Regions from separate parts of the Homo sapiens genome. Here all the other regions are reported to be linked to region 2. Evidence: microRNA targets listed by miRTarBase, many of them from high-throughput screens and not tested one by one. Region 2 holds a microRNA gene; each other region holds the end of a gene's coding sequence.
Evidence for each region. The annotated mature microRNA hsa-miR-605-3p reads AGAAGGCACUAUGAGAUUUAGA and lies in region 2 at 2,233-2,254, shown strand. An mRNA with a match to its seed (bases 2 to 7 or 8) in the 3' UTR can be bound and repressed. Matches are read on the target gene's strand: a 7mer-m8 pairs with bases 2 to 8, a 7mer-A1 pairs with bases 2 to 7 and ends in A, and an 8mer does both.

Region 1 (3,183 bases), not on the chromosome of region 2:
GAGGGATAGTTGGCCTGTGGCTGGGCACTTGACCTCCCCTTCGGTGCACGGACTTCCTCCTTCAGAAGAGCATTCTGCCGCTGAGGTCATCAATATCTCAGTGGCGTGTGGTTTTTCCCTTCGCATATGCTGGATATACTCTATGGCCTTCTCTCCTTGGAGTGTTGGGACTGCGTCCCACAAACTGGAGGCTGCCTTTGATGTGGTCCCTACGATTTCATTCCAGTGCATTATGATGGGCCCATTCGTCAGCCGCAGATTGAAATCTCTGTTGTTGCTTGTCACTCTCCACCCCGACGTCATCATTATCACTCACTTCCTACAACCCAGGGAGCAGCCACTGCAGCAGCAGTAGTCGGGGAGGCGGAGGGATAGAGGAATCTGAGGAAGTCACTGACAAGAAGCAGAGTTCCCCTGCCTACACACACACACTCACTTGCTCTCACTCACATAAAACACAGGCAAGAACCACCTCCTCACTCCTAAAATCCCAGTTCAAAATTTAGCTATATGTCTTGTCTGTTAAGAAGGCTTCATACTTCAGAAGTTTATAAAATGCTTTGATTTCACGCCTAGGCTCTTTGCTAATCATTTCTAGGTTCATACCTGTGCTCCAGATGACAGAGATAACCATATGCCTGACCAGTGGAGCACTATGCACTGTAACTACATTTTGGATCCATTTATTTATTCTTTCACATCCAGGACTTTTATTTATTAACAGAATGTTTTCCAGCTAATGTTTATATCTGGTGGGCGGTAAATTAATTACAAAATATAACACTGACAAAGCCTTTATATTTTTCTTTTTTTAAACCTGACAGCATAACTTCCTCTAAGATAAAGATGTTTTAAAGATGCTTGAAGGCCAGATGCAGTGGCTCATGCCTGTAATCCCAGCACTTTGGGAGGCTGAGGCAGGCAGATCCCTTGAGGCCAGGAGTTTGAGACCAGCCTGGCCAACATGGTGAAACCCCGTCTCTACTAAAAATACATTAGCTGGGCATGGTAGCACACGCCTGTAATCTAGCTACTCGGGAGGCGCAGGCAGGAAAGTCACTTGAGTCCGGGAGGTGGAGGTTGCAGTGAGCCACGATCATGCCACTGCACTCCAGCCTGGGTGACAGAGTAAGACCCTATCACCAAAAAAAAAAAAAAAAAAAAAACCACAAAACCCAAAAACCAACGCTTGGAAGCCATAGAAGTTTTATTGTAAGCATTTAAAAACAACAACAACAACACTAGGCTGGGCGCGGAGACTCACGCCTGTAATCCCAGCACTTTGGGAGGCCAAGGTGAGCGAATCACAAGGTCAGGAGATTGAGACCATCCTGGCCAACATGGTGAAACCCCGTGTCTACTAAAAATACAAAAATTAGCTGGGTGTGGTGGCGCACACCTGGAGTCCCAGCTACTCGGGAGGCTGAGGCAGAAGAATCGCTTGAACCTGGAAGGCAGAGGTTGTGCTGAATCGAGATCATGCCACTGTACTCCAGCCTGGTGACAGAGCAAGACTCTTTCTCAAAAACAAAACAAAAAACAAAACAAAACAAAAAAACACTATGACACTATAGAATAATTATCAATTTTATTCTATAGTGTTATAGCGTTTATTCTGTTACTAAATGAAAGCAAAGACTTCCTCTCAGCAGTCTCTCCTATGTATTAGGCTGAAGTAATTGCTGTCTGGAAAAGGAAATTTGCAGTTTCGGATGATGTAGTTACTTGAACATGAAAACAACTGGGTAAGAAATAGAGTGGTGATCATGTAAATGTTTTGTCCTAGTGATAGCCATCATATTAATTATATGAGAAATATTGGCAGATGATTAATTTGAGAAATTTCACAATCATTTCTAAGGAACAAACACAAATTACTGTAGAGTCAGCTCTCCATATCCCCACGTTCAAAATCTGCAGATTCAACCAACCACAGATCACAAATATTTGGGGGGGAAAAAACCAGTGTAACAGCAAAAAATAATACAAATTTAAAAACGTAGTATTAACCACTATTTATATAGAATTCATATTATATTAGGTATTGTAAGTAATCTAGAAATGATTTAAAGTATACAAGAAGATGTATCTATATTATATGCAAACACAATGCCATTTTATATAAGGAACATGCATGCCAAAACATAGGTTTTGGTATCCGTGGGAGCCCTAGAACCAGTAATCACCAGATACCAAGGGACAATTGTATTGTCAACTTACGTGCAGAAAAGAAAAAAACAAAAAAAAGGAAAACCTAAATAATTTTAGGAAAAAGCTTGACTTTTTCAGACATTTTCACAGTATTGAGTACACTATTCTATAAGAGCATGGCTATATTTTAGTAACCCTGAATATTGTTAATAGTGTAATGTAGCTACAAAGGGTGAAAAAATTAGAATTTTCAGACTATGCCTTTAATCTGGCATTCAGAATAATATCTCTATGGGAAAATCACCACTGTTGAAGGTTTATTTGTTAGATTCCTGATAATGCTGATCAAAAGATAAAAGATCAAAAGATTAACCATACATTTGTTTTGTTTTTTTAAAAAGTATTTATTTTTTACTAGTGAGGATGGAACTAGGGGAAGAAGTTTACAGAAAAGATGTCCATATACAAAGAAAGAAATAGCAAAATATTTTTGGTCATAATTTAGAAAGAAACTAATCTATAAAATGGAGACAATTCTCCCCAATTCATCTCTCTCATAGAAGAGCATAAGCACGGGCTCTCAGTTCCTTGATATCCTCAAGAGGCCACGGATACGTCTGACAAGAGCCTGTATGAAACTATATCGAGATCGAACTTTTGAATATAATCCTTCAATGTCCAGAAGTTTCTTTTGTAGTGATTCTCCAAAAGCGTTGATTGCATCAGCCTGAAGCTAGCGGTGACACAAAAGACATTTTGTTAAAATTGTTGTCTCAAATATTTCTTTTATTCTAAGTCTTCCAATTTAAAACACTTTAGAATTTTTGTAATGTGGTTCTTTCAATGTAAATACTTTTGAATTTTTGTAATGTGTTACTAAATTAACTAAACATTCACATTTTCTACCTTAGAATTTTTTGGTTTAATTCTCATGTTTTTCCTGCTTTCTTTTCTTGTATAAATTTAAAAACCTGCTTTAAATAGCAATGAATGTTGATGCTGATGCTGATATACTAACATACACACAAAAAC
Region 2 (3,183 bases):
AGTCGCCATCTGTTACCAGCTCTTTGCTACTGGTTTATCTTTTTTCCTTTTAAAACGTGAATTCTTGGATTTTCATATTATAATTTTATACTTACCTTAAATTAGGATTGAGAGGAAACTTTGACAACACCTCTTAAAAGAAAATTATTAACTTGTAAAAATCATACTTTTAGGTTTGGGTAATAGCTGGGGAGAAAGCAAAAGCAAATCAGGAAGCTTGTAGGTGACTCATGTGCATTTCTATGTATGAGCAACAGGAATGGTAGAACTTTTGTTCCACTGCAGTTGTACAATCTAATTATTCACTGATCAATCTACACATACTGCATTACTATGTAGGTTTTAAGATGGCATCTTTGCCATATGTCTCTTTTTTAACCTTGATATCTTACATGTAATAGGTTTTCATCAGTTTTGATGAAATCATGATGATAATGATTACGATAATGCCTCCCATTATTTTCTCTTTAGTATAAGGCATTTAATGGCTTTTCCTAAAAAATAATGCAAGCAGTTCTTAACCCTAACAATGAGGGATAGAGTAGGTGTCCTTACCTACACTTGTTACTATAAGTGATATATTTATATAAAGAGATGTATGTAAAGGAAATTCATTCACTCATTCATTTATGTACCTAACCATTATTCCTTCATCAGTTCTTGTTAAGCACTTACTATATTAGGCCCTGTATACATTTTACATGAATTATCTCCTAACCTTATAACAATGGTGTGTAAAGAAACTAATATTATCCATTTTATAGATGATAAATTCATGATTAGGGATATTAATTATGATGTCCAAATTTGCACAGGTGGCAAATGATACATTTGAAATCTGAACCCACACAATCTAATTCAAGAGTTACATTGCCACTACTTCAAAAAATGTGGTTTATTTTATAGGCAAAGAAAAGGCACTGAATTGAATATTATGACTAAGCTTGTGATCTTAAAAGATTTAGGTTCTGAGTTGGACCTGATTAAAAATTCCAGCTCCACCAATTACTGATTACATGAACCTGGTGGGAGTTGTTCAGTCTTTCCATACTCCAGGTTCTTCCTTTTTCAACAGTGTTGCTGAGCCATTAAATGAAACAGCTTTATGTAGAAAGCACTCAGCATAGTAAAATCATTATAAATGTTAGCTATTACACACTTACTTCTCTCCTTTTCTGGAGGAAGGGAGAAGATGGGTTTTTATTTTACAATCTTATTTTATAAAACTATAAGCCTGGAGTCTAGGGGGTAATGTAGGAATTGAAATATGAAATGGTTCTGATCTAAGGTAGAAACATTAGATGGATGAAAGAATATCATGCCGATAGAATTAAAAATTGTTAGGTTGGAGTATTTTATGTGGGCTGAGAGTAAAATAAATCTACAATTTGTGTGAGTGGTAGAATGTGAAGCGATTAAATAGGATAGGGAATTGGAAGGGAAGTGCTAGGACAATTCCTGGCACATAGTAGGCATGCAACAAAAGGTTGGAAGCTTGATTGCTGTGATCTGTATGCAAAGATCATATGGTTGCATAAATGTGTTAATATTGTTCTTTGGTAAGTGTTTTCCTGGTATTTAAGTGCAATGGAGCACAAAGGTTTGTTGTCTAAAGTGTAATAATGAAAGGAATATGACCATTACTCCATCTGTCATTTTCACTCATGCCTTTAAATGAGCCCTTTGCTCCAATAAAATGGTTCAGTTAATGGTTCCTTAAAGCCACACACACTTACCTGTCTTTTTGCCTTTGATGAATTTATTGCTTAAGACTTTAGCCAGTATCTCTTTTTGCCCATTCTTTTTATCTGTATTTATTTTTATATGTTTTTTGAGATGGAGTCTCACTGTGTTACCCAGGCTAGAGTGCAGTGGTACGATCTCGGCTCACTGCAACCTCCGCCTCCTGGGTTCAAGCAATTCTCCTTCCTCAGCCTCCTGAATAGGTAGGATTACAGGCATCCTCCACCATGCCTGGCTAAGTTTTGTAATTTTAGTAGAGATGGGGTTTCACCATGTTGGCCAGGCTGGTCTTGAACTCCTGATCTCAGGTGATCCACCCACCTCGGCCTCCCAGAGTGCTGAGATTGCAGGTGTGAGCCACCATGCCCCGCCTCTTTTTGCTCATTCTTTAAAGTAGGAACTTTGGTAGAACTTTCACAGCCTGTAACATATGTCTCTAGCCCTAGCTTGGTTCTAAATCCCATGGTGCCTTCTCCTTGGGAAAAACAGAGAAGGCACTATGAGATTTAGAATCAAGTTAGGACTGCAGATACAGGTTACCTATGTTACAGGCTGACAGCCACAGGTATATTGCTCTCTGCACATGTGTTTTTTCCTGGCCTCTCAATGACATTATAAGCTTCTATTATACCTCATGTGGCGTAACTGCTCTGCAATAATAGAAATTCAATAAAGGACTCTTTAATTTACAATTAAAGTCAGGATTGAATTTTGTGGAAAATCTTGATGCAAATGTACAAAAGAACTTCAAGAAAATTAGAATGCCATGAGTCATGCATTTCCTGGTACTATTCATTCTTCTTTAGGTACTATCATTCTGCTCAACCTAACATTTCTACCACCTACACCTACCATCTGGAATTATAGGCAGAGGGTATGAAGGGTGTCAAATCTTGAAAGAAAATTGCCTTTTCTCCAAAGTTGATGAAACTAAACCACAGTTGATTGGATTACTTGCTCAGCAAGAGAGTAGAACCTTGTCTTTATGAATTAAATGTCACTATTTCGTCTATTTGAAGATGACCTTATAGAGGATCATGGCTTACGACAAGTTATTTTGCTGAGGCTTGAATTTGAATTGTGTGTTGGTGAATGAGGCACTGCACACACAGTCAGAGCAGCTGCTCTCCATGCAGCTTTTCTTCTCTTTGGTTTTCTGTATCATACACAGTAATCCTTGGGTGTTATTCACATCTACTTCTTGTGGAGTAATAGTATATTATAGTGGTATCATAAATTCGGGATTTATGAAAGTTGTGGGACATACCTTCATGTGAATCTCAGTGGGTTACTGTATTTAATGATTTTTTCTCTTTTGTTTTGATTAAGAAGCTCTTTGCTGGGATGCTGAGTTCCGATTTAAATATTATACACCCTTCTTATTTCTCTCTGCAAAATTATAGCCTTGCTGATGAATTTTGCTTTACTCTTGAGTGTGGT
Region 3 (3,164 bases), not on the chromosome of region 2:
CACTGGAGATTTTAAAAACCTGCTCAAGACCGGACACAGTGGCTCATGCCTGTAATCCTGGCACTTTGGGAGGCCAAGGTGGGGGGATCACCTGAGGTCCGGGGTTTGAGACCAGCCTGACCAACAAGGAGAAACCCCGTCTCTACTAAAAATACAAAATTAGTTGGGCGTGGTGGCGCATGCCTGTAATCCCAGCTACTCAGAAGGCTGAGGCAGGAGACTCGCTTGAACCTGGGAGGCAGAGGTTACCGTGAGCCGAGATTGCGCGATTGCACTCCAGCCTGGGAGACAAGAGAGAAACTCCCGTCTCAAAACAAACAAACAAACAAAATAACAATAAAAAACCTGCTTAAGGTGTTAATCCAACAAATCCATGAAAAACTAGTAAGCTGTTGTAATGGCTCTGTGACCTGTGAGACAGCCATGTCTCATGCAAATGTGGCCCTGTCCGGGGTACTGACTCCGTCCCCCTTAGAGTTCCCCACCAAGGACTGTGGCTTAAGGAGGCAGATGGGGTCGGGGGATACCCATGTATTAGGCTGACTGGAAAACTGTGGGGCTTATGTGTTCCACAGCAAAGGAACATGATTCTCTGCTGTTGTTTCACTGGTCACACCTTACTTTAGGCAATGGAAATCTAGGCATTTTAAAGGTGTCGTGCACTAGATTTCTTTGTAAGACTGAAAATGCTTGGTTAGAGTAAATTAGGGACTTGAAATTCTTTAATTTTGCCTTTTTTTTTTTTTTTTTGAGACAGAGTTTTGCTCTGTTGCCCAGGCTGGAGTGCAGTGGTGGAATCTCGGCTCACTGCAACCTCTGGCTCACAGGTTCAAGAGATTCTCTTGCCTCAGCCTCCTGAGTAGCTAGGATTACAGGTGTGTGCCACCACACCCGGCTGATTTTTCTATTTTTTTTTTATTAGAGACAGGGTTTCACCATGTTGGCCAGGTTGGTCTTGAATTCCTGACCTCAAGTGATCTGCCTGCCTCGGTCTCTCAAAGTGCTGGGATTACAGGAGTGAGCCACTGCGCCCAGCCAGGACTTGAAATTCTTACAGTAAGATGTACCTGTATCCAAGGAGAAGGCTACCTGTGTGGATCCCTTTTCCTTTATGGTACTGACAACTTTTATTTTAGACTCTGGTCAGTGCACAGAAGGTGGAGATTTAAACTTGTGCTTCAAAGGCCAGCTGGAGCAGGGCCAATTAAACTTACTCCAACTGATTTCTGGGTGTGAGAGGATGCCAGAGGCTCAAAGATGGAGAGCAGGAGGGGTCGGGGTCCTCAGACTCCCATCAAAACCAAAAAGACAGGCCGGGCATGGTGGCTCACGCTTGTAATCCCTGCACTTTGGGAGGCCAAGGCAGGTCACCTGAGGTCAGGAGTTCGAGATCAGCCTGGCCAACATGGTGAAACCCTGTCTCTACTAAAAATACAAAAATTAGCTGGGCGTGGTGGTGGGCGCCTGTAATCTCAGCTACTCGGGAGGCTGAGGCAGGAGAATTGCTTGAACCTGGAAGGCAGAGGTTGCAGTGAGCCAAGATCATGCCACTGCACTCCAGCCTGGGCAACAGAGTGAGACTTTGTGTTAAAAAACCACCACAACAACAAAAAACAAAACCCAAAAAGACAGGGAAGAATGTGGGAGGCAGTTCCTAACATTCTGAAAGGGATATGAGTGATGTCCCATTTGAAAATGGGAAGCTAGGAAGAAAAATTGATCAGCTTTTCCCAAAATGGTTCACATTTCATAAAACCTTTCTGATGAGCTCAAGGAGGGACGCTATCAGATAACACAAGAGAAGGAAACAGAAGTTGTGTGCCTGATGATAAATCAACATAGTAGATATAATGACCTGTAACTATGAGGTCTGAAGAATTCTTTGAGGTCCAGGAGGGCTTTTCAGATGAGACCAGGCCTTGACAGTGGGGGCAAGTCCTACCAACCTGCACAGCACATCCAGCAGGACAACTGTGGCTCAGCAGGTGCCAAATGGAGCCCATGGGCAGAAGATGCCCACAGCGTTCCAGATGTGTGTGGTCTGAGAGATAAAAGGACACAGAACAAGATGACTGTGCAAATAGCCAAGTGGTGGCAGAAGTTCTGCATTTCCAAGAGATGATCCACTCAATAATTTGACGATACTAGTTGGCCAACATGCTCAGAGAAAACAGACTATCCACAACTGAGCCTCATTCTCTCTCAGATCAATCCATGTGCTGGAAACTATTTTCTGCACAAGCAAAATCAAATGAGAAAAAAAACAGGTCCCAAACTAAAGTAGCCAGCAAGGTTGGAAAATCTTGTCCAAAATCATCTGTGATGTGGGGGAAGTTTTATTTGTTTTATGTTTTTGCTACTACGGGTGCTTTTATTGCAACAGTGACTTCTTTCCTGTGGACTCTGAGATCTTATCAAGTCTGAACAGCAGGGTTGAGAAGAGTCCTGAATGCCGCCTGTTGCTTACCCAAGTCCCCGTGAGGCCAATCAGTGTCATCTGCTGAGGATGGAGATGGGGCCGAAGGAGCTATTCAGGGGTGAGGCAGGCCGCTCCCTGACCGAGGGGCCTCCTCCACAGCCTGCTGCCTGCCGCCTGCCGCCTCCAGCCTGGCTGAGCACATTGGACAGTCTGCTGACTCAAGGAGATGGGGAGGGGAGCTGGTGGTCTACACTGAAAAGGGGCCGGCTAAGTCAGCTTCAGTGGAGAGAGGAACAAACCAGGAAAGCCATGGAGGAGGCAGCTCAGGCTGGCTGCCCATGTGCAGAGAATGGCACACTGGCTCCGCAGACAGCAAGTGCACAGAGAGGCTGTGGGGTGTTATTATTCAGGCTTGGACTCTTCCTGCCTCCAATTCATTTCTTGCTGATGACCCGGCAGCTACATGCACGGGTTCCAACAGTCAGTCCCTCAGCCCAAGCACTCTGTGGTGCTGAGCAGCCATCAGGGTAAGCAGAGTCCGGGGCTCAGAGTCCGTTGGTGTCGATAGCTGTCACAGAAGCAGGTGTTGAGGAACGCGATGTGGTTGCCGAGGTCTTGTCGAGGGCTGGGCTGGGCACGCTGCAGTCGGCGGACCTGGCAGAGGAGCCCCTGCCTACAGGAAGCAGCGGCCGGCCCTGGCCGTGGGGGCTCTGGCCATGCAGGTTCTGACCACAGAGGCGGTGGT
Region 4 (3,183 bases), not on the chromosome of region 2:
AAAATTAGCTAGCTCACCAGATATTCTGAAAACACTGTTCCTGAGAAACCCTTATACGTTTTTATAGGTTGACGTCTTCCTTGGTCTATAATTTCCATGGGACAAAGACATTTCTCTACCTGGGAGTGCCCTTAAATTCAAGCTCTGGAAATCAAGGTCTAGGGAAAAATTCATTCACCAGTCTGAGACCTACCTTCCAGGTCCCCATTTTCTGTCCCAGTTGTCTTTTCTCTAGATTATAAACACTAAACAAACATGTGTGGTCTCTTTAGAGGGGATCCCAAAACCCAGCCCTGGTGGTTTGGTCTTACCTTGTGGCCTCAGAGGGCTACCTTATCATTATATGATAGCCTAACAACAATGTGGTATAGTGGGGCGGGTGGTGAGCAGGTGTCATTTTCCTTAGAGAAACCTACTCTACTTCCCAGCCAGGAGCCACTTAGTTGGAATGGGGACTGACACTTTATAGTTAAGTGAGCACATCACACTGATCTCTAAAACAAGACTTCAGTGGGGCAGCATTCCCCATTACCAGTCCAGCCTCCACAGCTTCTGATGGCTCCCACAGCTGCCCTTTCTTTATTTTGGTGTGACTAGCCCACTGCAGAGCCATTCCCATTACAGCCACTGCTATGTTCCTCTTTTAGGAACAAGTGACTACCCTGAAAAAAGAAGAGATGAAACAAATCACCCTTCAAATACAAAGTAAAATCATTCTTTAATTATTAAAAAAAAATCACTGTTGGGCTTTTTTTTTTAAAGGTCCATAAATTTTCAATGCAATGTTGAACTGGGGAAATGGTTATAGCAGCTCTCACATAAGTTATTTGAATTAATAAACATTATCACAGTATTAAGAAGGCAAGGTAAACAAATAGCTTAAGTATTTTATTTGTTTGCAACTAAGCTTGTTAACACTATATAATGAAAATGTACAAAGAATAATGTTGCAGTTTTTGGTTAGATTTAAGTCAAAGACATTCATTAATAAGGAATCTTCGAATGTGAATATTCCAGAAATTTCTCTAAGCCATCTGATCACAACAACTGTCTCTGAATATTACCTTACTTTGGAAGGTATTGGCATACATTTGAATTAAACTCAGAATTTTTCAAAATAAGCCCTAATTAAAAAAACTATTCTATATTCAAAGTAAAACAATATTAATAGAACTTTCCTTTCCAGAAACAATGAAGGAAACAAGGCATTTTGTAAAATGTGGTCCTGAACAAGTCACAGTAAAAAATAAATGTATACTTAACTTCCACCTCCTCAAAACAGAGGCTACTTTCTGTTCCTCAGCCTTGGAAACAAGGTGAAGAACAGCCTATATGCGACTTCGGGCAGGGGGTTGCCAAAACAAAGCTGAAGCAGTTGACCATGGACACCTCAAAAGAATTTGGGAGAACCCGACCAAAGGATCCAAATTCTATGTTTTTTTTTTTTTTTTGAGACGAAGTCTCGTTTTGTTGCCCAGGCTGGAGTGCAGTGGCATGATCTGTGCTCACTGCAACCGCCACCTCCAGGGTTCAAGTGATTCTCCTGCCTCAGCCTCCCAAGCAGCTGGGATTACAGACGCCTGCCACCACGCCCGGCTAACTTTGTTGTATTTTTAGTAGAGATGGGGTTTCACCATATTGGCCAGGGTGGTCTCGAACTCCTGACCTCAAGTGATCCGCATGCCTCGGACTCCCAAAGTGCTGGGATTACAGGCGTGAGCCACTGCGCCCAGCCCAAATTATATTTTTTAATAACTAATACAAAGGTGAAGTGGCTCCTCCCAAGTAGCAGTGCTGCCGGGGCCTGGCCCAGGCCTAGCCCTGGGCTCACCTCTCATGCTCCCAAGCCAACCCTGATGCTCCTGGCTCCAGGGTAGACCTTTTCCCTTTAGAGGTTCAGTGTCCAGGGAGCTCTATGATAATTGTGTGAATGAGGTGAGCGCTGACTCCATGTGAGTATTTTAAGGCTTGGAGTCAAAGAATTAACCTAACATGCCCAGGCAGAGTCCATGTGTCAATGGCCCGTCTCCAGTTTGTTCTAATTTCTCACCACGTGTCTGTAGATATAGGACCGCAGACCTTCGCTTTATCATCATAATCACATCTAATGTCCATCCTAACTTACGATTCATATTCTGTGCCTGGAAACAGTCCCTGTATTTAACAATACCTACACATAAAAACAATCCACTGTTACAACTTGTATGGTCACAAAACATTAATGATCTTCTTTAGACCAAGCAAATGTTTTTTTACCATAATTGTCGTGCACCAAATTCACAGCCAGAATCCCCAAGATCAAAAAAAAATTTTTGCACAATACAAATAATAACTTAAAATACACATACACACATATACACACACTCTCACACGCACTTCTTACAGAACTGTGCTTGGGGAAACTCCATTTGTTGAATGCCACTGAAGGCATATTTTGCTAAACTGCTGCTCCAGGTATTTTTGTTTGGAAAATCTATCACAGTAGGGCACAGCTGTTTATTGGATGAGCAGAAAAGAAAGATATGCTTGTGGCAACCAGAAAGTTTTACGGTCTTTCAAGTTGTATAAAATGGACCTGCAGAAACGTTTAAGTGTTCTCAGGATGCAAAGTTGGAGCTGAAATGTGACATCAAACCAGTTGCAAAAAGTGTACAGCAGCCATCTCTTGAGGTCAAACCTGGTACCCAGATATGTGACAAAGCTTCATGACACATCTGTAAATTAAGAATAAAAAACAAAAAGGGTAAGAATACTAAAAACTGTAGTGTCATGCTTTAAAAATTTTCACTAACAGTAAATGTGAGAAATAGCATGAACGATGACTCACCACTTAAAAGATACTAAAGATCAAGAATTTAAGGAACCTGACTGAAATTCAGTTAGATATACAACTGTTAATATTTTATGCTTTGAATATCTGGTAGTTGCAAATTATTTAGAATAAGAAATCCTGACCACACTTGATAAACTAACTTAAGGAATCAACTTTCATAAATTAACAACTGAAACTATCTTTCTGGAGAAAAGACAGGTAACAAATTGGTGCTCAAGTCAGACTACCTAGATTTTAATCCTAGCTGAACCACTAGCTGTATAAGCTTGGGCAAATTATTTAACCTCTTTAAATGCTATCTTTACCAGTAAAATGGAGCTAATAATAGTACTCCCTCATAGGGTCACTGT

Region 1: miRTarBase lists NUP205 as a target of hsa-miR-605-3p. The part of its 3' UTR that is shown has no 7-base or 8-base seed match.
Region 3: the mRNA of CBFA2T2 is a reported target of hsa-miR-605-3p. Seed matches in the 3' UTR shown: 7mer-m8 at 1,516-1,522.
Region 4: the mRNA of AKIRIN1 is a reported target of hsa-miR-605-3p. Seed matches in the 3' UTR shown: 8mer at 2,423-2,430 and 7mer-m8 at 858-864.

The regions. Positions count from the first base shown.
Region 1 is chr7:135,648,105-135,651,287 of GRCh38, reverse strand. NUP205 (nucleoporin 205) reads right to left here. Exons shown (of 43, transcript NM_015135.3): 43 at 2,535-2,884. The coding sequence ends at 2,732. It also overlaps the pseudogene LOC124901801. Among named protein-coding and RNA genes, the nearest start is that of STMP1, 13 kb to the left of the region's middle.
Region 2 is chr10:51,297,391-51,300,573 of GRCh38, forward strand. It overlaps MIR605 (microRNA 605), which reads left to right and starts at 2,183; the gene lies at 2,183-2,265. All of the region lies in intron 2 of PRKG1 (protein kinase cGMP-dependent 1), which reads left to right.
Region 3 is chr20:33,644,447-33,647,610 of GRCh38, reverse strand. CBFA2T2 (CBFA2/RUNX1 partner transcriptional co-repressor 2) reads right to left here. Exons shown (of 11, transcript NM_001032999.3): 11 at 1-3,164. The coding sequence ends at 2,965. Among named protein-coding and RNA genes, the nearest start is that of C20orf144, 16 kb to the left of the region's middle.
Region 4 is chr1:39,003,576-39,006,758 of GRCh38, reverse strand. It overlaps AKIRIN1 (akirin 1), which reads right to left. Exons shown (of 5, transcript NM_024595.3): 5 at 700-2,714. The coding sequence ends at 2,704. Among named protein-coding and RNA genes, the nearest start is that of AKIRIN1, 14 kb to the right of the region's middle.